Linked DNA regions of Homo sapiens. The protein of the gene in region 2 purifies or fractionates together with the protein of the main gene of each other region. This does not show direct contact. Each region holds a gene or a part of one and is shown on either strand. Other genes may lie near its edges.

Evidence for each region.
Region 1: the proteins of IKZF5 (region 2) and ZNF518B purify together in Homo sapiens (affinity purification with mass spectrometry; 2 studies listed by BioGRID and IntAct, with this or other methods). This does not show direct contact.
Region 3: the proteins of IKZF5 (region 2) and ELF2 purify together in Homo sapiens (affinity purification with mass spectrometry; 2 studies listed by BioGRID and IntAct, with this or other methods). This does not show direct contact.
Region 4: the proteins of IKZF5 (region 2) and MCM10 purify together in Homo sapiens (affinity purification with mass spectrometry; 2 studies listed by BioGRID and IntAct, with this or other methods). This does not show direct contact.
Region 5: the proteins of IKZF5 (region 2) and LIN54 purify together in Homo sapiens (affinity purification with mass spectrometry; 2 studies listed by BioGRID and IntAct, with this or other methods). This does not show direct contact.
Region 6: the proteins of IKZF5 (region 2) and ZC3H3 purify together in Homo sapiens (affinity purification with mass spectrometry; 2 studies listed by BioGRID and IntAct, with this or other methods). This does not show direct contact.
Region 7: the proteins of IKZF5 (region 2) and SLTM purify together in Homo sapiens (affinity purification with mass spectrometry; 2 studies listed by BioGRID and IntAct, with this or other methods). This does not show direct contact.

The regions. Positions count from the first base shown.
Region 1 is NC_000004.12:10,454,627-10,458,752, reverse strand, and holds the start of ZNF518B (zinc finger protein 518B), read left to right. Parts: upstream 1-1,326; 5' UTR 1,327-1,436; intron 1,437-3,764; 5' UTR 3,765-3,948; exon of another isoform or gene 3,949-4,126. UniProt on the Homo sapiens protein: Through its association with the EHMT1-EHMT2/G9A and PRC2/EED-EZH2 histone methyltransferase complexes may function in gene silencing, regulating repressive post-translational methylation of histone tails at promoters of target genes.
Region 2 is NC_000010.11:122,998,796-123,002,295, reverse strand, and holds part of IKZF5 (zinc finger protein Pegasus), read left to right. Parts: intron 1-3,500. UniProt on the Homo sapiens protein: Transcriptional repressor that binds the core 5'GNNTGTNG-3' DNA consensus sequence. Involved in megakaryocyte differentiation.
Region 3 is NC_000004.12:139,128,719-139,132,218, reverse strand, and holds part of ELF2 (ETS-related transcription factor Elf-2), read left to right. Parts: intron 1-3,500. UniProt on the Homo sapiens protein: Isoform 1 transcriptionally activates the LYN and BLK promoters and acts synergistically with RUNX1 to transactivate the BLK promoter. Isoform 2 may function in repression of RUNX1-mediated transactivation.
Region 4 is NC_000010.11:13,168,058-13,171,557, forward strand, and holds part of MCM10 (protein MCM10 homolog), read left to right. Parts: intron 1-2,864; coding exon 2,865-3,206; intron 3,207-3,500. UniProt on the Homo sapiens protein: Acts as a replication initiation factor that brings together the MCM2-7 helicase and the DNA polymerase alpha/primase complex in order to initiate DNA replication. Additionally, plays a role in preventing DNA damage during replication.
Region 5 is NC_000004.12:82,924,103-82,927,463, reverse strand, and holds the end of LIN54 (protein lin-54 homolog), read left to right. Parts: 3' UTR 1-2,861; downstream 2,862-3,361. UniProt on the Homo sapiens protein: Component of the DREAM complex, a multiprotein complex that can both act as a transcription activator or repressor depending on the context. In G0 phase, the complex binds to more than 800 promoters and is required for repression of E2F target genes.
Region 6 is NC_000008.11:143,538,648-143,542,833, reverse strand, and holds the start of ZC3H3 (zinc finger CCCH domain-containing protein 3), read left to right. Parts: upstream 1-1,386; 5' UTR 1,387-1,412; coding exon 1,413-1,458; intron 1,459-3,513; coding exon 3,514-4,186. UniProt on the Homo sapiens protein: Required for the export of polyadenylated mRNAs from the nucleus. Enhances ACVR1B-induced SMAD-dependent transcription. Binds to single-stranded DNA but not to double-stranded DNA in vitro. Involved in RNA cleavage.
Region 7 is NC_000015.10:58,885,180-58,888,679, reverse strand, and holds part of SLTM (SAFB-like transcription modulator), read left to right. Parts: intron 1-124; coding exon 125-295; intron 296-1,059; coding exon of another isoform or gene 1,060-1,078; exon of another isoform or gene 1,079-1,139; coding exon 1,140-1,454; intron 1,455-1,560; coding exon 1,561-1,705; intron 1,706-3,500. UniProt on the Homo sapiens protein: When overexpressed, acts as a general inhibitor of transcription that eventually leads to apoptosis.

The DNA.
Region 1 (4,126 bases), on a different chromosome or scaffold from region 2:
AGACTTTGAACTCTCTGGCATATTCTCTCTGATAGGTGCTATCTGCACATAAATGTGTTTTTCTGAGAAGAGGTTCCTTAGCTTTTCTGAGCCCTAGGAGATAGAAAACCAGGACCCTAGCAGCTCCCTGATCAGGACCGAGGTTAGGAGCACTGCAGCCTAGGGCAGGAAGAAGGATTTGCTCTCTGGGCTGCTATTTTCTCTGCCCAGCTCCTGATACTTTAGTGGTGGAGGTTTTGCCCAGCTGCTGGACTTGTGGCTGAGCCTGTCTTCTTCAACTCCGCTTCTCCGTGTGGCAGTACTGCCCAGGCCCACATCTCCTCCGTGCAGCATACTGGCCGCTGTCCGTGCACGCCGACCTTTGGCCGCCAACAGGAAGGTGATGGAAACCAGCCTTGCCCCGCCCCCGCCTCCAGAGCTTTGAAATAAACTTTAGCTGTTCATCCCGAAGAAACTGTACTTCCCAGTGACGCTGCTCCCATGCCTCAACCTGCCCCTGCTGGAGAGCTGTTTCACTTTGTGGGGAGTCACTGATTGTGCGGGACCTGGCAATATGGTCTTCTTCTTTCCTCTTAGAGGCTCTATTCTAAATATGTCTTCCTTCCGGACCGTAGATGCAGGTGTATCTAGAGGGCAGTTGGCTCGCCCAAAATAGCACCGAAGTCCAGGAGGCAGGAAAGAAACTCTGGCATTAAATGAGCTCACACCCTCTCCAGACTCCCACAGTCATTGTCCCCTCTGACCCTCGCAACGCCCAACTGCTAGAGGAGGCTTTGCGCCTCACATACGACCTTCCCCGTCTTCAGAAATGAAGACACTGAGAGAGGTCAGGGGACTTTCTCGCCAAGGTCCAGCAGCTAAGATGTAAAGGAGTAGGGAGAGTCAGGATTTGTACCCAGGACTTCAAGGCCATCTCCTTCACTGAAGCTCTCCAAGAAGACGAGTTTGGAGGCTGAGGACCTGAGCTCCTCTTCTCTCGCTTTCACTCACCCACTGCAGGACTGCAGGCTCCAGGGAGGCAGGCGCCAAGGCCGCCCTCCGCGGGACCCGGTACAAGGCAGGCGCCCCGGGATGGCAGACTGGGCCAGGACCGAAGCCGAATCCTTCTTTTGCCTGCGGCATGGCTAAATGTGGACCTCGCTCGCTACGGTGCGAACGTGTTGGGTCAAGCTCTAAGCCCAGAAGTGGGGCTCGGCTGGGTCTGAGGCTCCCCGCTCTGGACAGCTTAGAAGCCCGGCGGGGGCGGGCGCAGCCTTAGAGACCTCAGGCGCCGGCCTCGCTGGAGCCGCGCCGCCGCTTCACATTGCGCACGCGCGGGGCTGGCGCGGGCTCCGCCCCCCGGGTAGGGACCTACAGCGGGCGCGGCGCCGGCGGTCTGCGGCCGGCGGTGTAGACGCCCCTTCGCCGGGACCTGGCACCCGAATCCGGCCTGCCGGGTAAGTAGCTGAGCGGGAGGGCGAGGGCCCCCGGATCCGCGTGTACGTGACCGAAGCGCCAGCTGCGGCCGGGTCGTGGGGGCGCGCGGGGCGGGGGCCTGACGGGGCCAGGCCGGGGCGGGTCGAGCGGCCGCGGCCCCGCGTGCCCGCGCTGAGGGCTGGCGTCGTGGCAAGTGGCACCGGGTAGGCCGAACGCGGGCTCCGGCTGGTGGGCGTGGGGCACCGGCTGGGGTGGGGGCCCGGGCCGCGGCTTGGCGCGCGTTGAGCAGGTACGCGGGCCTGGCCTAGGGTCGGGGTCCGGCCCGGCGCCCCCAGCTCGCCTTTGTGCGCCGCGACCCCGCGGACTCGGCCGACGCGCCGGGGCGACCGAGGCGGGGGTGGCAGCGTCCCGCGGGGCCGTTCGTGTGGCGCCGCTGGCCCGGCCTGCGCTCCCCGCCCCCAGCGTTATGAAGGATGCCTCCTCCGAGGGCTCCTACCGTCCGCGCCGAGCAGGAAGTGTCGTCAGGAGGCCATTTTTAAAGCCTCCTGCGGGCCTCGGAGCTGAGCGTTGACGGTTTTGGTTTTCTTCGGTTGGAAGAACCCCGGCCTTCCCTCGCGGCGAGCGGGACGCGCCTGGGAGACGACGATGCGCCCGATGCACCTGGCCTCGTCCTCCGAGCGCCCAGGCTCAGGCGCGCTCGCCTCGGATGCTGCCTGCCATCGGGGGAGCGTGCCGACAATAAACTCGAAAACCAGCCTGGCATTGTCTTTCCTTGAGAGGGTCAGGGGTGGGCTCGTCCATCGAGGTCCTGCGCATCTTTTACGGGGGGCGAGGACATAGGAGGTTGAGAAGAGATGGTGAAGGTTTGAATTGTTCCAAATGCTGATGTCATTGTGGGACCTCCCCATACCGGCCTGCCCGTCTTATCTTGGTGTCTTTGGGGTTTGGGGCTCTGTAAAGCCAAGAAATTGCAGGGTTCAAAAGAATGAAAGTTTCTTAACCAGAAAGGAAAAGCCAAAAGAGCGAACGGGAGAAAACACTTAAGTCTTTATAAGTTGGGTAGTTAATGTATCCCGTTACAATACCTCTGACTTTAAAAATTGTAATAATGAACGATTTATCAACGTAACATTAAAAAAAAAAACTACAGAGCATTATGTCCTATTTAAAAGTACAAATCTACGTAGCTAAACTCTAATGTTGTGTTAGACTCTTTAAACCATCTTAAGTTTAGACTTGAAATCACCAAGAATTAAGACAAACCTGGGTCTCTAGAAGCTTGCAGTACTCTTCTACAGTAGAGCAGAGACTGAGGATGGGAATACATCTCTTTTCTCTCTCTTGAGTCACATATGCAAAGTTCAGCCCAGCATATGATGTCAGTACACAGCCAAGGGTTCAGAAAATATTGTTTTAGAAACCAATGTTATATACTGTTGTCTCTTTGAGTAGAATACAAATAGTTCTTTTTTAAAATTGTGTGATATTGATATCTTTAACTAGGATGCAATTTTTAAAAGTTACTTTCATCTTGGATCAAATTTAGCCTTCAAAAATAACACTTTTTTGCGTAGACAGTTTGCTATGCTGATAACATTCATTGCAAATGCAATTTGAAAAGAGCAGACAAAGGATGGCATTCCTTTATTTATTGGGACTCCTTTCTGATGTATTATACCCGATCTGAAGATCTTAAAAATGCAAAATGGCAATTAAAAAAATCCATTTAGATCTCTAGAGATTTATTTGCCTTTAAGTAAGGGCATCGGGGCCAGTTTTTGTGCAAAAGGAAGAACAAAGAACATTTTATTTTTGTCTCTGTGAAGCCTGCTCTTTCATTCATTCATTCACTCATTCTTTCAACCAGTACGAACCTTATTGAGTGCCTTCCTTGGCCAAACCCTTCGCTATTGATCATGATAAACAAGATCCTTACCAGGGAGGGTTTCCCCAATCATGATTGTTCTCAAACTGCCTGCTGTCTACTGCATTTTCTTTGTTATGCAAACTCAGCTAACTGCAATTTCCAGGATTCATCCTTGGAGTGAAAGCAGCTACAGATCAGCCAGTCTAAACATTGTCATCATAGGGTGAGGGTGGGGAGGCATCAAAATCAACTAGGGAGAATTTTAAACCATATGCCTGAGCCCCACCCTAGGAAATGGTAACCTGATCTGCTAGGTTGCATGTGAGTCCTGGGAATCCTTTTTAAGTTCCGTGGGTGACTTTGCCATACACCCCTGCTTGAGAACCACTTCTGGGGCTCATTCCCCTTATCTTCAACACTCTGAGAAACCAAGGCTGTGCCGGTCCAGGACTTAAACCCAAGTGTTTGGCTTCTGTTGCAGGCCTCTTTGTGCAGCGCCTTGCTGACGCCCAGGGTTCTGATGTAGAAGCCTACACCAGGGCCTGAGGTTGTGAAACTCATGGCAGTCCACGCCTGAGAAGAGAAGGCCTGAAAGAGAAGGAAGAGCCCATGGGACTTGCCACGGTTTTGACTTACATCTGCAACTCCAAGGCTACAGGCAGGAAGTAAGAACAGTGCTCAAGTGGCAGCAGATACTGACTATGGCTTCATTTCACAGCTTCACACAGCAGGGTAGCAGAAAACAAAGAATGTAAGATTGGACCCAGTTGCAGCTGTTCACCAACTCTGTGATCTTCAAAAAGCCATATAGCTTCTCCAGACCTGTTAATCAGGGAAGAAGCA
Region 2 (3,500 bases):
CCACCCACCTCGGCCTCCCAAAGTGCTGGGATTACAAGCGTGAGCCACTGCGCCCGGCCACTAATAATTTTTAAAAGCCCCTAGAACTACCGTAGCTTCTAAAAAGGGAGGAAAGGAACGATTCACAAGTATTGAATTAAGAAAAGAGAATTCAGTTACCTGTAAGTCCTTATTTGGCTAAATATGTTTGGAACAAAGAAGAGACTAGATGTGAAGAGAGAAGACAAGAAGTACGAAAATAAGATAGATCAGTCTGAAGCCAGGAAACAGGGAAAACAAAAACAGCCCTGTTACTGAGTGGTTGTAAAGTACAATAATTCATATTAATGGTATGTCAAATGTTGGTCTATTTCCAGTAGATTTCGAGTTAAGTCAAAGAAGAAGTTTTGATTCTTAAAAAGTTGGTCATATTTTTGTAAATTGGAAAATCTGCTTTTGCAGAACCCCCTCATTCCTCAACCCTACAGTTCTACTATTTAAAAACTTAGGCTGAAAAGGCCCAAGAACAGCCTATTCTTGAAGAAGAAAAACAAAGCAGGGGGACTTAAATTACTGTGATAGCAAGACTTATTATTAAGAGTATCTGGTATGGCAGCAAGGACAGATAGGCTAGTGGAACAGAACAGAGAATCCAGAAGCAGAGCCACATACGTGCATATAACCATTTGATTTAAAAAGAAGACATCAGAGCTTAGTAGAGAAAGGCCGATCTGTTAGGTACACATTGCTGGGACAGTTGGATATCTCTTTGGAAAAAAGTATGCTTTGACTCTTATCTCACACCATACACAAAACTCAAGTCCAGATAAAAATATGAAAGGTAAAATAAAAAGCATTTAGAAGAAAGTATAGGAGAACATCTTCAAGTAAGATGTAGGCAAGGATTTCTTAACTAGGACACAAACAACTCTAAATGTAAAGGATAAAAATGGGTAAATTGTACTATATTAAGAACTTCTGTTCATCAAAAATTACCATTAAGAAAGTGAAGGCCGGGCGCAGTGGCTCACGTCTGTAATCCCAGCCCTTTGGGAGGCCGAGGTGGGCAGATCACAAGGTCGGGAGATCGAGACCATCCTGGCTAACACGGTGAAACCACATCTCTACTAAAAATACAAAAAAATTAACTGGGCGTGGTGGCGGACACCTGTAGTCCCAGCTACTCGGGAGGCTGAGGCAGGTGGCGTGAACCTGGGAGGTGGAGCTTGCAGTGAGCCGAGATCACGGCACTGCACCCCAGCCTGGGCGACAGAGTGAGATTCTGTTTCAAAAAAAAAAAAAGAAAAGAAAAGAAGAGAAAACGAAAAGGCAACCACAGTGGGAGATACTTAAGATGCACATATCCTAATAAAGGACTCATTATAAAGCATTCTTCCATATTAGAAAAAGACAACACAATAGAAAAATAAGCAAAAGGTATGAGCAGACATTATACAACAGAGGGTATCTAAGTGGTTAATTAGTATATATTAAAAAGTTTACATCTTCATTAGTCACCAAGGAATGTAAATTAAAAGTAATGTGATACCACTAGACACCCACCAGAACGGCTAAAACGAAAAAGGCAAAACATGCCCAAGTATTGTCAAGGATGTGGAGCAGCAGCAGTTTTGTTTACTGCTAGTGGGAGTGTAAATTGCTATAATCACTTTGAAAACCTATTTGACATTATCTAAAACTGAATATATGCATGCCTTTGATCCAGCAGTTTCACTTCTATACAACCAACAGAAATATGTACGTAATCAAAAAACGTGTAGTAATATGTTCATAGAAACTTTATTCACAGCAGCCAATTACTGGAAATTACCCAAATGATCTAAAAACAGTATAAGAGATAAATGAGTTGTGGCATGGTCATACAACAGACTCCAGCAGTAAATTTGAGCAAACTTCAGTTGCATGCAACAATATGGATGAATCTTACAATTACAATGTTGAGTGACAGAAGCCAGACAAAGGTTCATAGTGTGTGATTCCATTTACATAAAGCTGAAGAACAGACAAAACTAATCTACAGAGTCAGAAGTCAGGATGGCTGTAACCCTTGTCAGGGCAGAGGGTCCTAGCATTGGAAGGGTACACGAGGGGGGTTTCTGGGATGCCGGCATCCTTCTGTTTCTTGATTGTGGTGCTGATTTTATGAATGTGTTCATTTTGTGACAATTCATTGAGCTCTGCTCTTATGATTTATGTGCTTTTCTATATATGTACAAGACTTCAACAAAAAGTTAAGCATATATGCTGAAAGTGAGTAATTTTTTGTCTACCACTGGCTACTAAAGATGGAAGCTTGTTTAGATGGAAAATTATTCATTAAATAGTTTGAGTTTAGAAAAAGAAGATTTTATAAGGTATATTTACCAGAGAATTGTACTTATTTGCATAAAAATTGTTTTTCCTGGAAGAAAAGACCTTTTTTATCCCAGGTGCTAGACTTCATCTTATTCTTACTAGAAAACTTTTTTGGCTATTTTATTTGTGAATTTGGGCCATAAACCTATGTGAAGACCAGCTTGTGATTGCAGAACACACAAGAGACTTTCCCTTTCTACACTACGGTCAGGGATTTTCTTTTACTTTTTTATTTTTCCCTAGTCTTGGAGTGGATAGGATGATAGGTAGTAGAGGTGGTGATTTGGATATTTCTAGAGCAGGGGTTGGGAAGCTAAGGCCTGTAGGCCAAATCTGGCTCAACGCCTGTTGTTATAAAGTCTAATTGGAACATAGCCCCACCCATTTGTTTACATACTGTCTGTGGCTGCCTATTGTCTGTGGCTTCTTACCGTGACACAGTTGAGTAATTGCAGCAAAGATGAGCATGGCTTGCAAAGCCTAAAATATTTACTAACTGGCCCTTCATAAAAACTTTGCAACCCCTAGTTCTAGACCACTTATTTGCAGACTACTCATTCATGTGAACACTATGTCTTAAGAGCCTTTGCTGGTAGTTACTAGCTGCATGCAGCTATTTCTATTTAAATTAATAACATTAAAAACTCAGGTCATATGTATTAGCCAAATTTCAAGTGCCTCAGTAGCTATATGTGGCTAGTAGCAACTGCGTAGGAATAGCACAGATAAGAAACATGTCCATCATCCAGAAAATAGTCTCCTTTTGTCAACCAGGTTGGAGTCCAGTGGTGCAATCACGGCTCACTGCAGCCTTGACCACTCAGACCCAAGCAATTCTCCTGCCTCAGCCTCCTGAGTAGCTGGGACCATCAGCATGTGCCACCACTCAGCTAATTAAAAACACTTTTTTTTGTAGGGACAAGTTCTCCCTATGTTGGTCTCCGGTCTCCTTGGTTTCTTGTCTTCTTCATCAATAATCTCTGCTTGTGTTCTTATTTATTTAATCTGAACTTGTTTTCTCTTTTTTTCTGCCTTTGAAATTTCTTCCCATCCTCTGTGACTAAGTTTGAATCCGTATTTATATTTAATTATTAAATATATTGATTTTTTACCATTTTGTGTATGTCTTTAGTTCACCAGTAAGA
Region 3 (3,500 bases), on a different chromosome or scaffold from region 2:
TATTTATTTTATTTTTTTGGTTTTTGTACCAATTGTTATTTTTAAATGAAAAAAGTATTTTGATATTTCTTAATTACCAGGATCATTGTAAAAAACAATAAACTCAGACATACTGAGAAAATGAAAATCCATCTTTTGTCTGCTCACCTCTCTTTCACCAGGTTAATAATTTGAGGTGTATTTTTTCCAGACTTTTAAATGTATATGCTAAATAAATATATAAATGGAATCAGACAACAGTACTATTCTATGGCTCATTTTCCTCCTCCTTCCACCCCCTCTTGTTTGTATCATGGATATTTTTCCATGCCAGTATATAGCTCTAACTGCCTTAATTGCTTAATTGATATTGAATAGTCTCTCATTGTATGGATGTTTGTTAGTATGGGTGTATGTTTTCTATCTCTTTTTTTTTTTTTTGGCATTATGAACATCTAGCTTAGGGGACTTGTCTTAAAACTGGGTTTGCATAGCAAGTGCACCATTATTTATTCTAGTGACGTATTTATTTGGAGTGGTTTCTGGGGTTAAACCATGAGAGGTAGGGGAGATGAGTCCTCCCTAAAGCCTGCCAAACGGCATTTTTCAGTTTTGATAAGATTTTTTAAGGTAACCTTACTCTACCTCGAAAGAGAAAATGTGGAACAAATTTATGTACTTTTCACATACTCCTGAATTTTATTATCTTTCTATATATTCCTAAAGTACATTGAGAAAAGGATTACAATACCACTGCTTTCAGCCATTTCATTGTACTTGTCTTTGGAAACTTCTGATACCTGGAGAGCAATGACTGAGTGCATATAAAAGCACTTTCTAGGTAAACACTGCAGCATTGCACTTGTCTTGCCTCTTTAAACTAAGAATCTCTCTCCTTAAATGGAAGTTTTTGAGATCACTGTTAATACTTACAGTAGGGTTGCCAGATAAAATACAGGATGTCTAGTTAAATTTGAATTTCAGATAAACAACAAATGACTTTTTACTTTAAGTATGTCCCAAATATTGCATGGGACATTCTTACAGTTATTATTCAGTGTTTCTCTGAAATTCAAATTTAACTGGGTATCCTGTATTTTTTTATTTGCACCCTAGCTTGTAGGGAATTAGACAGCTTGTGCCAAGACCCATGGTGACTTGAGCAAAGTAATGCTAAGTAAAATAACCTTGTACATGTGTTATTTTTTGCTATTTTATTTTTAAGCAAAGACTCCTGGTTTCTTCTCTTCCATCCCCTTTCTCCCATAAAAATAGCTACTCTTCTACACAGTACAAGGCAATAATTATCTGAATAGCTGCATGCAGTGTCCTCTGGTCTGTATCATATGGCAGAAAAAAGGCTCATGAAGTTACTTGCCTCCATAGATGAGCAAATGTTGAACTTATAAATACCTGTTAATATTAAAATTTGTTGACTTTATTATTCTTTGAGCCAAGCTACAAATATCTGTACTTAAATGCCACTTTAGTTTATATGAAGCATGTGTTATTAAGGAGGATATAAAAATTGACTACGATATAACTCTTGCTCTCAAATATCCTACTAACCAGTCAAGGAGTTGTATATGTAAACACATAATTATAATATGGGACAATGAACAGTGGTAATATTAGGCAAACAACTTGTTCTATAAATACGTAGGATAGAAAAATTAATTCAGATTGGAGGATTATAGAAGATTCCCTGGAACTTGATGAAAAGCCTTCAGTAGATGAAAAGGATTTGGACAGATGTGAAGGCTACAAAATAACATGAGCAAAAGTCTTGGAAATGTTCACATTTAGGAATTAGAAGCAATGCCACTAATCAATTTATGTTAAGTAATGTAGGGAAATAAGATATAAAGGTGGTATATTAGTTTCTTGGGGTTGCTGTAACAAAGTACTGTAAACTAGGTTGCTTAAACAACAGAAATTTATTGTGTTACAGTTCTGGAGGTCAGAATTTAGGAATCAAGGTGTTGATAGATTTTTTTTTTATTGTTGTTTGTTTTTTTTTGAGGGCTAGGAGGGAGAATCTCTTTAATGCCTCTCTCCTAGCTTCTGGTAGCCTCAGGCACTCCTTGGCTTGTAGATGGTGTTCTCCCTGTGTCTTTCCATGGTTTTCCTTCCCATTTGTGTGTCTCAGAGTCCAAATTTCCCTTTTGTAAGGACATAGTCAGATTGGGTGAGGGCTCATCTTAATTATCTTGTCTTAACTTGATCATCTGCAAAGACCTTATTTCCAGATAAGGTCACATTCACAGAAGCTAGGGGTTAAAACTTCATCTTTTTGGGGGACACAATTCAGCCCATGACAGGTGGGTTGGGGTTATATTTCAGAGTGTTAAAGCCATTGTTTAATTTGTTAAACTTTCCTTTTAGACCAAAGGGGAGTCATTAATGCTTTTTATGCAAGGAAGTAACACAAACAGTTCTGATTGTGATGTGAAAAGGTGCCCTCTAAAGTTGAGGGCAAATAGTAGATTTGAAGACTATTTCTATTGTTAAAATATAATATCAGCTGTCACTAATTGAATAACTTACTCTGTGCTTTGTACTTATACTATGCTAAGAACTTTGTGCATATAAAGTCATGGGACTTTAAAGGACAGAAATATTAAAATCTCTTTTTTAAATATGAAGAAACCAAGATTTAAAGAACACAGAATGGGGAAACAGGGACAGATGTAGATAATTTGTGCCATTTAGACATGTTAAGCTTGAAGTGTTGACTGAGTATTCCTGTAGTGATGTTAAAGTTGGTAGTTTAAAATTTGGTTTTGGAATTCAGAAGATGAGTCAGAGTAGAGGACAAATACTTAGTCATTATCAGCATAGAGGTGCTATTTGAAACCATAAGAATGGGTGGGCTTACTTGAGAAGGTAGTATAGGGCAAAAAGAAAGGAGACACTGAGGATAGAACCTCACTAAGTTGGCTAGACTTGAGTCTATGGAGATGAAAGAAGAGTCAGAGGAGACGCTTGAAAGTAGAGTGGTAGGCCGGGGGTAGTCGCTCATGCCTGTCATCCCAGCACTTTGGGAGGCTGAGGCGGGCGGATCACCTGAGGTCAGGAGTTTGAGACTAGCCTGACCACCATGAAGAAACCCTGTCTCTACTAAAAATACAAAATTAGCTGGACATGGTGGCACATGCCTGTAATCCCAGCTACTCAGGGGGCTGAGGCAGGAGAATCACTTGAACCTGGGAGGCAGAGGTTGCGGTGTGTCAAGATTGCGCCATTGCACTCCAGCCTGGGCAACGAGCGAAACTCCATTTCAAAAAAGAAAGTAGAGTGGTAGAGAAAGTTGGAAGAATGAATTTTTTAAATGAGGGTAATAATAAATGTATGAGTCTGCGGGGAGGCAGTAGAGATTGAAAACTGAAATAGAATTTGGTCGTTATTAACATTTTGAGGCTGGGTATGGTGGCCCATGCTTGTAATGCCAGCACTTTGGGAGGCTGAGGCAAGTGGATTGCTCGAGTCCAGGAGTTCAAGACCAGCCTGGGCAACATGGT
Region 4 (3,500 bases), about 110 Mb from region 2:
TTCAAAGTGAATAGTATGGGGTCCCCAGGCAGCATTTTCCACCTGTGGCCCCCAGTGGTGTGAGCCAGAGCCTCTTCCCGGGGTGTGCCCTCTTTGGCAGACGGGAACAAGAGATGGTGGAGGCCTCTTTGCTTCCTTGCAGGCATGTGACATTCTCAGAGCACAGGGGGCTGCCTGGCCTCTTCTCTCTTGCACTGTGCAGCCTTGGAGTCTTTGTGGACTAAGCAACTCAAGCTAATCCTTATACAACCTCTGACTGAGCATTAGGCCCCATCATCAGATTCTAGGCCTGAAGTTTGGCTACTGGCTTTTTCCTTCTGGTAAGGGAGTGTAGAGTGGTGGAAAGGATATTGGTTTGCTGATCTAGAGATTCCTTATTAACCCAGCTCCTGAACTGATCTGTTTCTCCATGTGATCCTGAACAAGCCCCTCACCCTCTCATACTCTAGCCCCTGAATTTCAGACAAGGAGAGTAGGTCAGATATCCTTAATATTTTTCCATTGAATACCTCTGATTTTATAAACAAATAGTGCCCAAATAGGGGGGAAAAAAGAGCAAAGAAAATAGATAAATCAAGAAAGAAGAAATCCGATTGGCAAATAAACAAACAATTCTTAACCTCACCAGTAATCCAAGAAATGCAAATCAAAACAGTGAGATGCCTTTTTAAATCGTCCATCAGATTGACAAAAAAATATTTAAGTGACACATCAGATATTGATGAGGTGGTGGGGAGAAGTGGCCCTTGTGTACAGCTCTAGTGAGAGTGATACAGATGATAGCAATTATTTAGGGAGATAGTAAGGGCAACAGAGTCCTCAGCAGAATTTCCCTTTTAGCAAAAAGCAGCCCCCAAGTAATTTCTAACAAGGCCAGCCAGAAAAATCAAGCGGACATAGAAAAGCAAGCTAGTAATTTGCACGGATGAATACCTGCAGCTGTGCCAATAGGAAAAGGCTCCCTGGGGGCCAGGCGTGTTCAACATGGCGGCCCTTTTTCTGTGTCAACCACGTGTACAGTAAAGAAACAGACAATATGGCGCTGGCCAGGTAGAGAACCACCTGCATAATAAAAGATTAGGGTGGGGCAGCCAGGTTTTCCACCCTATGCAAATGGCATACCTAGTCCAGCCAATCTTTTATGTCCTGTGTAAATCAGACATTGCGTCCTCAAGCTCGTCTATGAAACCCCATGCATTTTGCCATGGACGCGGCAACCCATTTCTCTGGGACCTCTCTGCTGCCGAGAGCTCTTCTCTTTCTTTTGCCTATTAAATCTCTGCACTTAACCTCACTCCTTGTGTGTCAGCATCCTTGATTTCCTTTGCATGAGACAACGAACCTCAGGTATTACCCCAGACGAACTATGCCATTTCAAGAGTGCATCCACTTTGAGAACAATTTGGCAGCATCTAGCAAAATTGGAAAACGTGGATACCCAGCAATCCAGCAATTCCATTTCTGATAGATATTCCCAAGAAACACATGTGCGAGAAGACGGATACACGATTACAGCGTATTTAGTAGTGGGGAAAAATTAGAAATAGCCCATATTGTCCTTTATTGGAAAATGGATTAATGAGGTGTGATACAGTCTTATTATAGGATACAATATAGCAACGAAAAGAAAGAAACTAGAACTATATGGGGTTTTTTGTTTGTTTTTGAGATGGAGTCTCGCCCTGTCACCCAGGCTGGAGTGCAGTGGTGCGATCTCGGCTCACTGCAACCTCCACCTCCCAGGTTCCATCAATTCTTCTGCCTCAGCCTCCTGAATAGCTGGGATTACAGGCACGGGCCACCACGCCCAGCTAATTTTTGTATTATTAGTAGAGACGGGGTTTCACTTTCTTGGCCAGGCTGGTCTTGAGCTCCTGATGTCAGGTGATCCTCCTGCCTTGGCCTCCCCAAGTGCTGGGATTACAGGCGTGAGCCACCACGCCTGGCTAGAACTATATGTTTTGATTTGGGTTAATCTTACAAGCAATGTTGAATGAACCTGGAATGCAGAGTAATGCAGTGTGGAATATTTATGTAAATATTTTTAAAACCATCTAATATAGATTGACTATGACTGCCTATATATTTATGTAAAAGCATAAGAATGGACTGGAATGATGCCTCAAAATTATGAAAGTGATTACAATGGGAAGTGGGGGCAGTGGTCAGGAGTTGGGATAAGATTTGGCATGACAGACTTCATCTGGAAGGTGTTATTTAATGTTAAAGGCAAGAAGCAAACAACAAAATGTTAATGATGGCTAATTCTGGGTGATGGGATCTTAGTATTTTTTATATAGTTTGTATCTTTTTTTTTTTAAATCTCAAATAATTTGAAGGTCAGGAATTATATACATCTAAAGCCTAAATCTATGTTTGGTGTTTTAAAATTATTCCCTTGTTGGTTGAATTTCATGGAAGTCGGTGTGCGGGAAGCTGTCTCATTGATTGGAGTAGAATGCTTGAGGACATTTGGCCCCGTGGCTGGCCCACTCTACTCACTAAGCAGTATTGGCTCCTTCTTAGCCCAGTGTCCCCTAAGAAGCACCTGGGGACAAGAAAGATGGAGACAAGGAGAACAAAGACCAGGCAAAATGGTGCATCTGTAGGTTTTTGTTTTTTTTGTTTGTTTGTTTGTTTGTTTTTTTAGTTTCAGCTTTCATTTTAGATTCAGGCTTGTTACAGAGATGTATATATAGTGTGATGCTGAGGTTTGGAGTATGGTTGAACCCATCACCCAGGTAATGAGCATTGTACCCATTAGGTAGTTTCTCTTACCCCCATGGGGTCATTTAAATTGCCTAAAGTTGAATGTTTGGAATTAGCCGTGCTTATTCTCTGTCCTTTCTCTTCTTTTCCCCTAGAGGAGGAAGACAATCTGTCTCTGCTGACCGCACTGCTGGAAGAAAATGAGTCAGCCTTGGATTGTAATTCAGAAGAAAATAACTTCTTGACGCGGGAAAATGGCGAGCCCGACGCATTTGATGAGCTCTTTGATGCCGACGGCGACGGTGAATCTTATACAGAAGAGGCTGATGATGGAGAAACAGGAGAGACAAGAGACGAAAAGGAAAATCTGGCCACTCTCTTTGGAGATATGGAGGACTTAACAGATGAAGAAGAAGTTCCCGCATCACAGTCAACTGAAAATAGGGTCCTCCCTGCTCCTGCCCCCAGGCGAGAGAAAACGAATGAAGAGTTGCAAGGTGCCCTAACTACTTGCCTTCCTTATTTCTTTCGGATAAGTTGGATGAAGACCACCAATCTGATAGTTGTCATCAAAATAGCTGCTGATTCAAGGGTAGAGATAAATGACTTTGTAAAAAAAGAAAAAAAGAAAGAAAATTATATGAGTTGGTAGATGAAATGTTTGGGCCAGCATTTCAGCACAAACTATAGACTCTATCAGTGTCAGCCAGCTGCACTTGATCCTGTACGGAATGGCTCTGAAACTTTTCATATTTCTTATGGAATAGTAGCACTTTGGGATGTATGTGGAT
Region 5 (3,361 bases), on a different chromosome or scaffold from region 2:
GAGGATGGGCAATGTGTTTCTATAATAAGGAAAGGCTAACAGATGCTCTGGGCTGTCTCCATTTTCTTTCAAAGAGGTGGTATGTATTTGAAGTAATAAATTGTCAAAGTGATTACTGGGTACTATTAAAATGATAGGTGGATATAAATGGAAGTAAACATTATGTAGTGATAATATAGAACCTCACATAGTAATCAAGTATAAAATTTGGCATGGGTGGAGAAACAAAGAATAGGGAAGCTGCAAAAGATGAATTTAGAGAAGTTTTCATCTATACAATCAATTATTTTTACAGACTTTTTTTTTTTTTTTTTTGAGACGGAGTCTCGCTGTGTAGCCCAGGCTGGAGTGCAATGGTGAGATCTCAGCTCACTGCAACGCCTCTGCCTCCCAGGTTCAAGCGATTCTCCTGCCTCAGCCTCCCGTGTAGCTGGGACTACAGGTGCATGCCACCATGCCCGGCTCATTTTTTGTATTTTTAGTAGAGACGGGGTTTCACCGTGTTAGCCAGGATGGTCTCGATCTCCTGACCTCGTGATTCGCCCGCCTCGGCCTCCCAAAGTGCTGGGATTACAGGCATAAGCCGCCGTGCCAGGCCCTTTTTATAGACTTTTGAACTAAGAGGTTTCAAACCAAATCGCAACTCTTACTTGATTTACAGAAATGGGCCTCCTAACAAAATTTTCAAAATTGTGGTGGGATTTCTTTTTATAAGGGAAGTTTAATATGGCATTATTTTCAGCCAGTGATTTGGAAGGTCTGTTTTCCTATAATTACTAAAATAACCTAAATCATTTTCAGTATTCAAAAACTCTATGAATTTAAGAGCCTGTTGTGACAGGACTCTTGATTTTATGACAAGAAAAAACCATGTTGGAATTCAGGCATTTTGTTAGGTACCTTAATCATCAGTAATTAGTATATGATTATTTCATTTCCTACAAGGACTCTATAGTTGTATGTATTAAGTGTGTATATATGTTCATATGAACATGCAAGATATAGGCAATAGAAATTAAGTAATCCAAAAGAGGATTCCGTTATTCACTAAAGTATCTTCCTTTTAAATTTGGATTTATAAAATCATAGTGCAGTAACTTTAAATGTAGATAGTTCAAACATTCTTAGCACCTCAATCTAGTATGTTTAATTAAAATTTGTATAAATGTAAATTAGTGTAAGAGGGTAAAATAATAATCAAGTTATTTTTCAAAAGATTGCAATAAGTTTTTGGTCTAAACTTAAACTTTGTTCATTTTGTACATACTCTGTGTTAATTCTAATTGCACCTTTGTGATGTGTATTTATATACAGTGTGCAGAAAATGTTCGTGAAATTTTGATTACAATTGTAGATTATGTATGATGGCATTGCTTACGAATGTTTTGCTTGTAAAAAAATTTCAAGGTGCAATCAAATGCTACTAGTTTTTCTGATTTTCAAAAATCTATCTATCTAAAATATTAAGCCTTTTCCTTCCTGTGTAGTACTTACTAAATAACTTTTTGTATTCAGGCATTTGCATCAAATTGCTGAACAAGATGAATAGCCACATTAATTCAATGATTTTAAAAGACTATTTGGGGAGGGTTGGGTATATAATTTTTTAGCTCTATTTACATCCCAAAGTAGAAAGATTAAATTTATATTTACTAGAGCTATTCAAAGAATACACTTTTCTATATTGTAAAAACAGGACAGCAAAGTAAATCATACAGAAAATAAACATTTATACTATTCTGTAAAAAAGGTTTTGCATTTTTTCTTTAGTATAATAACACCACTTTATTAACCATTTAATATGCAAAAAACCTTTTAAATTATCTGAAGTAAATTTGACATTACTTCTGAAAACACACAACTAAAAAATTCTATCATTTTGCTCAGTTATTACTAACATAAATTGCTTTGAAATGAGAATATGTCTTCTCTTTTTTTCCCCACTGTTTCTTTTAAGAGCAGAAACTCAGCCGGGCATGGTGGCTCACGCCTGTAATTCCAGCACTTTGGGAGGTCAAGGCGGGTGAATCACTTGAGTCCAGGAGTTCTAGACCAGCCCAGGCTACATGGTGAAACCCTGTCTCTACTAAAAATATAAAAAAATTCACTGCGTGTGGTGGCGCACACCTGCAGTCCTCGCTACTTTGAAGGCCTGAGCCTGCAGAGGTTGAGGCTGTAGTGAGTCAAAATTACACCACTGCACTCCAGCCTGGCAATCAGAGTGAGACCTTGTCTCAAAAACAAAAATACCTAGAAAATCAATCTACTCTGTCTTTTAATGTGAAATGTTCTTATGATAGCTATCTTTCTTAGTTTCCTTTTTTTCTGAAGCACTAAACACAACCTGTAGGTCTTATCTCTGGGGTCTGGGAAACAGAACCTTAATGTTACAGGTACAAAAGCAAACAGAGTGATTAGTTCCCCATTTTCTGGTAGTGAACAACTGACATTTTTTCAATCTTATGTAAAATGTGAATAAAAATAATTTTAGAAAAGTTATCTATTTTTATTGTTCTGTAACACAAATAGTTAAGAAAATGAATACTTGTTATGTAAATGAAGCTTCACAGCAGGACCTCCGGCCATAACTTTGATCATGTTGTATCTCTTAAGCATTTTATATAGGAATTCTGGTGTGGCTACCCAAAGCAGAAGGGAAGGCAATCAACTAAAAATCCCTTTCTATTGGAGTTATTTTCATCATGTAAATTACTTCAGGCTTTTCTTGTTAGGGCTTCTTGAATGCACATTTTGTCATTATCTGTATACCAAAGGTGAGCTTTTTTTTTTAATCCATGTGATTTTATGAGTTGAAAGCTATAAGGTTTTTTTTAATTAAAAATTTCCTTCTAAATGGCAAATTTTGTGACAGCATTTAAGACACTCAGTTTCTATTCAAAAGCAATAAGAAAACAAGTATGTTTAGGGTTATGTTTATTATAAGGTCACTGGGACTTTATAAAACTGTCATCTATCATACTGGCATATGAAATCTGGTCATAGTATTATAAAAAGAATACATCATGACCAAGTAGGGTTTATCCTGGGAATAAAAGTTGATCCAATGTTTTAAAAAAAACATAGTTCACTGTATCAGCATACAAATAAGAAAAGCTAAATGATCATCTCAAAAGTTGCAGAAAATGACTGTGGATATAGGTAAAACTGCTAAATTATATTTTCTTGTTTGTTTCTTGAGATGGAGTCTCACTCTGTTGCCCAGGCTAGAGTGCAGTGGTGCGATCTCAGCTCACTGCACCCTCTGCCTCCTGGTTCAAGCAATTCTCATGTCTCAGTCTCCCGAGTAGCTGGGGTTACAGGCATGCGCCACCAAGCCTGGCTAATTTTGTATTTTTAGTAG
Region 6 (4,186 bases), on a different chromosome or scaffold from region 2:
GATTCTTCTGCCTCAGCCTCCTGAGTAGCTGGGACCACAGGTGTGCGCCACCACGCCTGGCTAATTTTTTATATTTTTAGCAGAGACGGGGTTTCACCATGTTGACCACGCTTGTCTCAAAACTCCTGACCTCGTGATCCGCCCGCCTCAGCCTCCCAAAGTGCTAGGATTACAGGCGTGAGCCACTGCGCCCGGCCGAATTTCCTTCCATTTTAAGGCTGAAAAATATTTCATTGTTTGTATGGATCACATTTTGTTTATCCTTCCATCCACCCGTGGACACTTGGGTTGTTTCCGTCTTTTGGCTATTGGGAAAAATGCTGCAGTGAACATGGGGGCACAAATATGTTTGAGTCTCTGGTTTCCATTCTTTTGGGAATATAGCCAGAAGTAGGGTTGCTGGATCATACCGTAGTTCCATTTTTGTTTTCTCCTAGAAAGGCAGATTGCCACATGCAGCGCCTCATTTGGATGTGTCTGGAATCTTGACTACCCTACCTTCTCCTACAAATGGACCTTGAGAGCTTGTTTGGAGGTTCTACCAGGGAAGCCCAGCTCTTCTATTGGGTATGGTCGTTCTCTTCGACTGAGCTGCAGCTTCGGGAGGGACGCACATGAAGCAGTGAGGAAGGAAGGGGACACCCGCCTAGCCAGCCAGATCAGCCGAATCAACCCTGGCGATCAATGGGATGACAGGTGTCGCAGCCAGATCGCCCTCATATCCGGTAGTTCTACTTTTAACCTTTTGTGGAATCTCCATAGTTTTCTGCGGTGCTGCGCCATTTACATTCCCACCAACAGCGCACAGAGGTTTACACTTGTACATGTTTCCAATGACGAACTAAAAACTTTCATGTTTTCAGAGGTTCAACATGTCTATCCAGGGAACCTTGCTCTCCGATGTCTTCTCCTCTGGCCACAGTAAGAGGTTTCACAGACCCTCCTGGGTCAAGAGTAATTGTTAACTGGCCCTTCTCCCATGGGTCCCCGCGTAGACCCCCCCCCCCCCAACACTCAACTGGGGCGAAATGAAACGCAGGGACTGTGGGAAGGAACTGCGGTATGGGCTGGGTGGGCCCCAGGTCTCGCCCCTCGCCAAGTCTCCCAAGGGGACGCGATCCCGGACTGCACAAGCTGGGCCCGCGCGGCCTCCCAGAGCCCAAGCAGTCCCTTCCCAGCCGTTACCAGGCCACTTCCCGGCGCTCACTAGTGACGTCCCCGCCTCGTTCTGCGCGTGCGCGGCTCTGCCTCTCCGCTGCCGTTGTCAGCGCGACGGCGGGTCCTCGGCGGTCGGCAGACATCCGGGCCTGCTCCTGGCAGCTCCGCCCTGGCCCGCTCCGCCCCGCCCGCGGGAAAAAGGTCGCGTAGCGATGACGTCGTGGGGGCCTGGCCGGCCGTCGCGGACTCGGGAGATGGAGGAAAAGGAGATATTACGGCGGCAGATCCGCCTACTGCAGGGTAGGTCCGGCCGGGGCCGGGACGCGAGTCCCCTTCTTTCCCCCTCACCTCGCGGCGGGTCCCCTGCCCCCTTGTCGAAGGGGTCGCTCACCGCCCGCGTGTTCTGGGTGGCGGCTGGGGTGGGGGACGGTAGGGTCCGCCAGGACTTGTGGGCCGGCTCAGGGCCCGGGTCAGTCCCCGGCTCCAGCTTTGTCGAGGGAGTGGTGCCGGCCCTGCTGGGGCTGCAGAGGGTGGAGGCAGGGCCGTCGCTTAGTAACCCGCGGGGGGCGGCGGCCCTCCCCACCACCGCGGGCTGTCGCGTCCCCCGGCGCCCACTCTCTCCCCGCGCCCCACTGCGGGGCTGGGACTAGTTCATGGCTCATTTCGGCAGAGCAGGCTAAGGGCGCACGCGGGTTCCTTCCTTGACGCCCGGTTTTTTTTGAGACAGAGTCTTGCTCTGTCACCCAGGCTGGGGTGCGGTGACGCGATCACGGCTCACTGCAATCTCCTCATCCTGGGTTCGAGTGATTCTCCTGCCTCAGCCTCCGGAGTACGTGGGATTACAGGTAGGCGCCAGAACGCCTGGCTAATTTTTGTATTTTGAGTAGAGACGGGGTTTCACCATGTTGGCCAGGATGGTCTCTAACTCCCGACCTCAGGTGATTCACCCGCCTCGGCCTCCCAAAGTGCTGGGATTACAGGCATGAGCCACCGCTCCCAGCCTCGACGCCCGGTTTTGATGCCCCTTTTCTCCGAACAGTCACACTCCCCTTGCCATTCCAGGCGCAGACTGAACAGGCTTCAGCTTCCACACTTAAACATTAAAAAACCCAAATTGGTCTTTCTAAACTTAAAAAGAAAATCCATGTTCGGACGCAGTGGCCCACACCTGTAATCCCAGCACTTTGGGAGGCTATGGCAGGAGGATGGCTTGAGCCCGGGAGTTTGAGACCATCCTGGGCAACATGACGAGAGCCCGTCTCTACAGAAAAATTTTAAAAAGTGAGATGGGCGTGGTGGCTTGCGCCTGTAGTCCCAGCTACTCAGAGGTGGAAGGTTTGCTTGTGCCCTGGAGGTCCCGGCTGCAGTGAGCCGTGATTGGGCCACTGCACTCCAGCCTGGGCAACAGAGAAAAACCACATCTCAAATAAAAAGCCAAAACCAACCAAACAAAAAAAAGCTTTAAAAATTAAAAATCCTTTTTGCTTTTACTCTCACAAAGGGAAGACTTAAGGATTGGGAAAGTGTGTATGGATAAGAGGCCAGGTGGGCTGCCTCCCACTTGGGGACACTTCTTGAGCTCCCATCACACCTGCTCTGGGGCGTCAACACGTCTGGACGTGGCTTTCTGTGCCCCCGGGGGCAGGGCCTGTGGTGGGGGAATGCTGATAACTGGGAGGCTGGCTGCTGCCGCCCTTGCCTGTGTTCCTGGCCCTCCTGCACCGGGGTAGCTATCCAGGGACTTATTTGGAAAGTCCTGTGGTTGTGTCAGTTCACTGCAGTAGGACTCTAGCCCATTGATGTTTCCTCTTCTGCAGGGAAGACTATGAATCTGGCAGAGCAATGGCCTCTGCTCCTAGTATTCTTTTTTCCTGTTGTCAGGCATGGGGTCCTCGAGAGTGTCAGTTCTGTTACACTCAGTGGAGTGACTCCTTTCCATCTGTAGGCAAGCCAGAGGGCCTGTGCGGCCACTTGTCCCCTCTGATTCAAACAGTGCAGAGGGGATCATTGCGATTCTCTTCAGACTGAGTGACACGTCTCAGCAAATGACTGTGGACTCAGTAGACCAGCAAATAAGGCTTGTTACACCACACGGTTCATTTCTGTGTGAAGCAGGCAGAAGTAGGACTGAAGTGGAGCTGATGGAGAAAAGGCTCATAGAAGCGACAGGCCCAGGTGACGCGGGCTGAGTTGTCAGTGAGTCCCAGGCTCTGGGGGCTGCCCCTCCTGAAACTGGCAGGGGCTCAGAAGTGAGATGGGATCTGGGGGTATCTTGCCAGCTGATGCCCTTCCAGGGTAGTCATGATTATCGCGGTTACCCTCTGGCTAACTGGGCCTGTGGTTCTGTCTTCTCAGGTCTGATTGATGACTACAAAACCCTCCACGGCAATGCCCCGGCCCCTGGTACCCCAGCAGCTTCTGGGTGGCAGCCACCCACTTACCACAGTGGCAGAGCCTTTAGTGCCCGCTACCCTCGTCCAAGCCGGAGGGGCTACTCTTCCCACCATGGGCCTTCGTGGCGCAAGAAATACTCCCTCGTGAATCGGCCCCCGGGACCCTCAGACCCTCCTGCCGACCATGCTGTGCGGCCGTTGCACGGGGCCCGGGGGGGCCAGCCTCCTGTCCCGCAGCAGCATGTCCTTGAGAGACAGGTCCAGCTCAGTCAGGGTCAGAACGTGGTCATCAAAGTTAAACCGCCATCAAAGTCTGGCTCTGCCAGTGCCTCAGGGGCCCAGCGGGGCTCTTTGGAAGAATTTGAGGAAACCCCCTGGAGTGACCAAAGGCCCCGGGAAGGTGAAGGTGAGCCCCCTCGGGGACAGCTGCAGCCCTCGAGGCCAACAAGAGCCAGGGGGACCTGCAGTGTGGAAGATCCTCTTCTGGTCTGCCAGAAGGAGCCTGGTAAGCCCAGGATGGTGAAGTCAGTGGGCAGTGTGGGCGACAGCCCCCGGGAGCCCCGCCGGACAGTCAGTGAGAGTGTGATTGCCGTCAAGGCGAGCTTCCCATCCTCCGCTCTGCCCCCACGCACTGG
Region 7 (3,500 bases), on a different chromosome or scaffold from region 2:
TGTCTTGAGTTTACTAGCCCTGTTATGTCCACAGTTCTAACATGTGGTATGTATGACTCCAAGTAAATGTCGTTTGATTACTGTAGAACTAATTTATGTAAATAAGCAAATATTTCTCTTCAAGGCGAGATGATCCTTACTGGAGCGAGAATAAAAAGTTGTCTCTAGATACAGATGCACGATTTGGCCATGGATCCGACTACTCTCGCCAACAGAACAGATTTAATGACTTTGATCACCGAGAGAGGGGCAGGTTTCCTGAGAGTTCAGCAGTACAGTCTTCATCTTTTGAAAGGTAGATATGTTGAAAATTGTTATATTTATTTTATGAGCCTTGCTAGTGATAACTCTGTTTCTCCTAAAATCTTAACTGGAAGTACCAGGTCAGAACTGAATGCTCAGAACAATTTACGTGGTTTTTGTTTCTGTTAATGGGAATGTGATTCAGTATTCCAAATTAATTAACTAGAACACCATTAAGCAGGTTGGCTTTATCTTCTTATCTTTATTCTATTTTAATTTTTTTTGAGACAGGGTCTCATTCTGATTCCCAGGCTAGAACGCAGTGGTGCAATCTTGGCATACTGTACCTCTGCCTCGTGGGTTCAAACGATTCTTGTGCCTCAGCCACCCAAGTAGCTGAGATTATAGACATGCACCACCACCATGCCCGGCTAATTTTTGTATTTGTAGTAGAGACGGGGTTTTGCCATGTTGGCCAGGCTGGTCTAGCACTTCTGACCTGAAGTGATCCACCCACCTCAGCCTTCCAAAGTGCTGAGATTACAGGCCTGAGCCACCACTCCCCGCCTCTTCTTATCTTTAAAACTGTGGAAGCACTGATTGCTTTGGATATGCCTCAACTGTTAAGAACAGTAAAACATTCTTCAGCTTGGTAGTGACTTTTGAGTGTTCGGTATCATTTCTCCTGAATGCTAAAAAACCAACCTTTAGGCTAGACACTTAGTTCAGTTTAAAAGAAAATGAGTTGTAATAATCAATAACTAGCTTTTTTCCATGGCTTTGCCTTAAGTTCATTTTTTGGTTTCATTATTGTAGGTTATGCAGACAAAGTTAAGAAGAATTAAGCACTCAAGTAAGCACTTCTTGGACCTATATTCTTTGTTTCTAATCAATAGGCGGGATCGCTTTGTTGGTCAAAGTGAGGGGAAAAAAGCACGACCTACTGCACGAAGGGAAGATCCAAGCTTCGAAAGATATCCCAAAAATTTCAGTGACTCCAGAAGAAATGAGCCTCCACCACCAAGAAATGAACTTAGAGAATCAGACAGGCGAGAAGTACGAGGGGAGCGAGACGAAAGGAGAACGGTGATTATTCATGACAGGCCTGATATCACTCATCCTAGACATCCTCGAGAGGCAGGGCCCAATCCTTCCAGACCCACCAGCTGGAAAAGTGAAGGAAGCATGTCCACTGACAAACGGGAAACAAGGTAGCTGTGTACTATGTAATGCTTTCCTAGTGGTCTCATGCATTGGGGTTAAAAAAAGTTAAGATTACAGTTTTGATCATGTATGTTTTTATGTTTTGTTTAACAGAGTTGAAAGGCCAGAACGATCTGGGAGAGAAGTATCAGGGCACAGTGTGAGAGGCGCTCCCCCTGGGAATCGTAGCAGCGCTTCGGGGTACGGGAGCAGAGAGGGAGACAGAGGAGTCATCACAGACCGAGGAGGTGGATCACAGGTAAGTGCTGCGGGAGGCTTGCCGCGAGCCTGCACACATACATTTAGAGGATTCATGAGCTACTCTGGATATACAGTAGCATTTTGATGTGGCTTAGATTAGCTAGATTGGAATGATTCAGAGGCATTAATTTTTTATTTAAATTTTTAAAATCTGAATTTTTCTCATACTTTACTGTCAGTAGTTGACCATCAGTAGTCCAAAGAGTTAAGGTACTAGCCTTGAAATACTCCATTTCGATTAAACTTCCCAGTGAAATTTAAGAATTGTTAATTTGGTAAGTGAGCCTATCTAATGATAACTTTGGTTTTATTTCTTTTTAAGAAATTGAGGCTTTCAAACTGCATCTGAAATCTTTGGCCCCTACTTGTGTTTCCTTTTCAATAAAATATTCTTGGCCGGGCATGGTGGCTCATGCCAACACTTTGGGAGGTAATCCCAACACTGTGGGAGGCCGAGGTGGGCAGATCGCCTGAGCTCAGGAATTTCAGACTAGCCTGGGCAACATGGTGAAACCCCATCTCTACTAAAAATACAAAAATTAGCCGGGCGTGGTGGTGGGCGCCTGTAATCCCAGCTACTCTGGAGGCTGAAGCAGGAGAATCACTTGAGCCCAAGAGTTGGAGGTTGCAGTGAGCCAAGATGGTGCCACTGCACTCCAGCCTGGGCTACAGAGCCAGACCCTGTCTGGAAAAAAAAAAAAAAAATACACACACACACACACACACACACACACACACACACACACACACACACTCTTCTTTTTCTCCTGCTTCATTTAAGTAGCTTAAAGTGTAAAATTGAAATAGAACTTTTGTCTATTTTTTGTCTTCTTATCCTAAAGGTAGATGAGTGTAATGTTACATATTTTTAAATTTTTACTCTTGTGACACTTTATTGACTTGAATATTTTGTAAGTTAATGAGCTGGACAGAGGAAAGTGTCTTTATCTTTTAGAGACCGAAATGAACAAAAACCTTTTGCCTCATTTAAAAGTATTCTTCTACTGATGAAATACTGGCGTGTGGGTTGATAGTAGCACAGTTAGGACATACTTTCATAAATTATATACCAAAAAGAATTGTGCAGTGTGTGTGTCTCCATTATATGCTGGTGTTTGTTTTGTATTTTAATACAGTGTGTGTGTGTGTGTTGTTGTTTTTTTTGTTTTGTTTTGTTTGTTTGTTTTTTGAGATGGAGTCTTACTCTGTCAAACAGGCTGACATGCCGTGGTGCGATCTCGGCTCACGGCAACCTCCGCCTCCCAGGTTCAAGCGATTTTCCTTCCTCAGCCTCCCGATTAGCTGGGACTACAGATGTGCGCCACCACGCCTGGCTAATTTTTGTATTTTTAGTAGAGGCGGGGTTTCACCATGTTGGTCAGGCTGGTTTCAAACTTCCGACCATCCACCTCTGTCTCCCAAAGTGCTGGAATTACAAGCATGAACCATGACGCCCACCTCCTAAAAAGAATTTTTAAGACTGAGTCTATAATCCAAATAAGTCTGCCTTGTTTATAGTAAAATTTAAGTATCAAAGACTAGCCCTCCGCATTCAGAGGTCCTTTTAGAAAATGTGTCCTGAGGAGGAGATCTTGTATCCTCCCTTGAAAATTTTCTTTTTCATAATGTTAGTCTGTAAATTGTTCTGCCAGTATTATATCTAAGCCTCTCTGTGGGTACCTTCTGCTTTCTTTCCTGTAAGCTAAGTATCACAATGCTTGCTTTCTCTTTCCATAGATCTCTAGTTCTACAGTTTCTGTTTCTTTGTGTTTGCTACTCTGTTTTCCATAGTT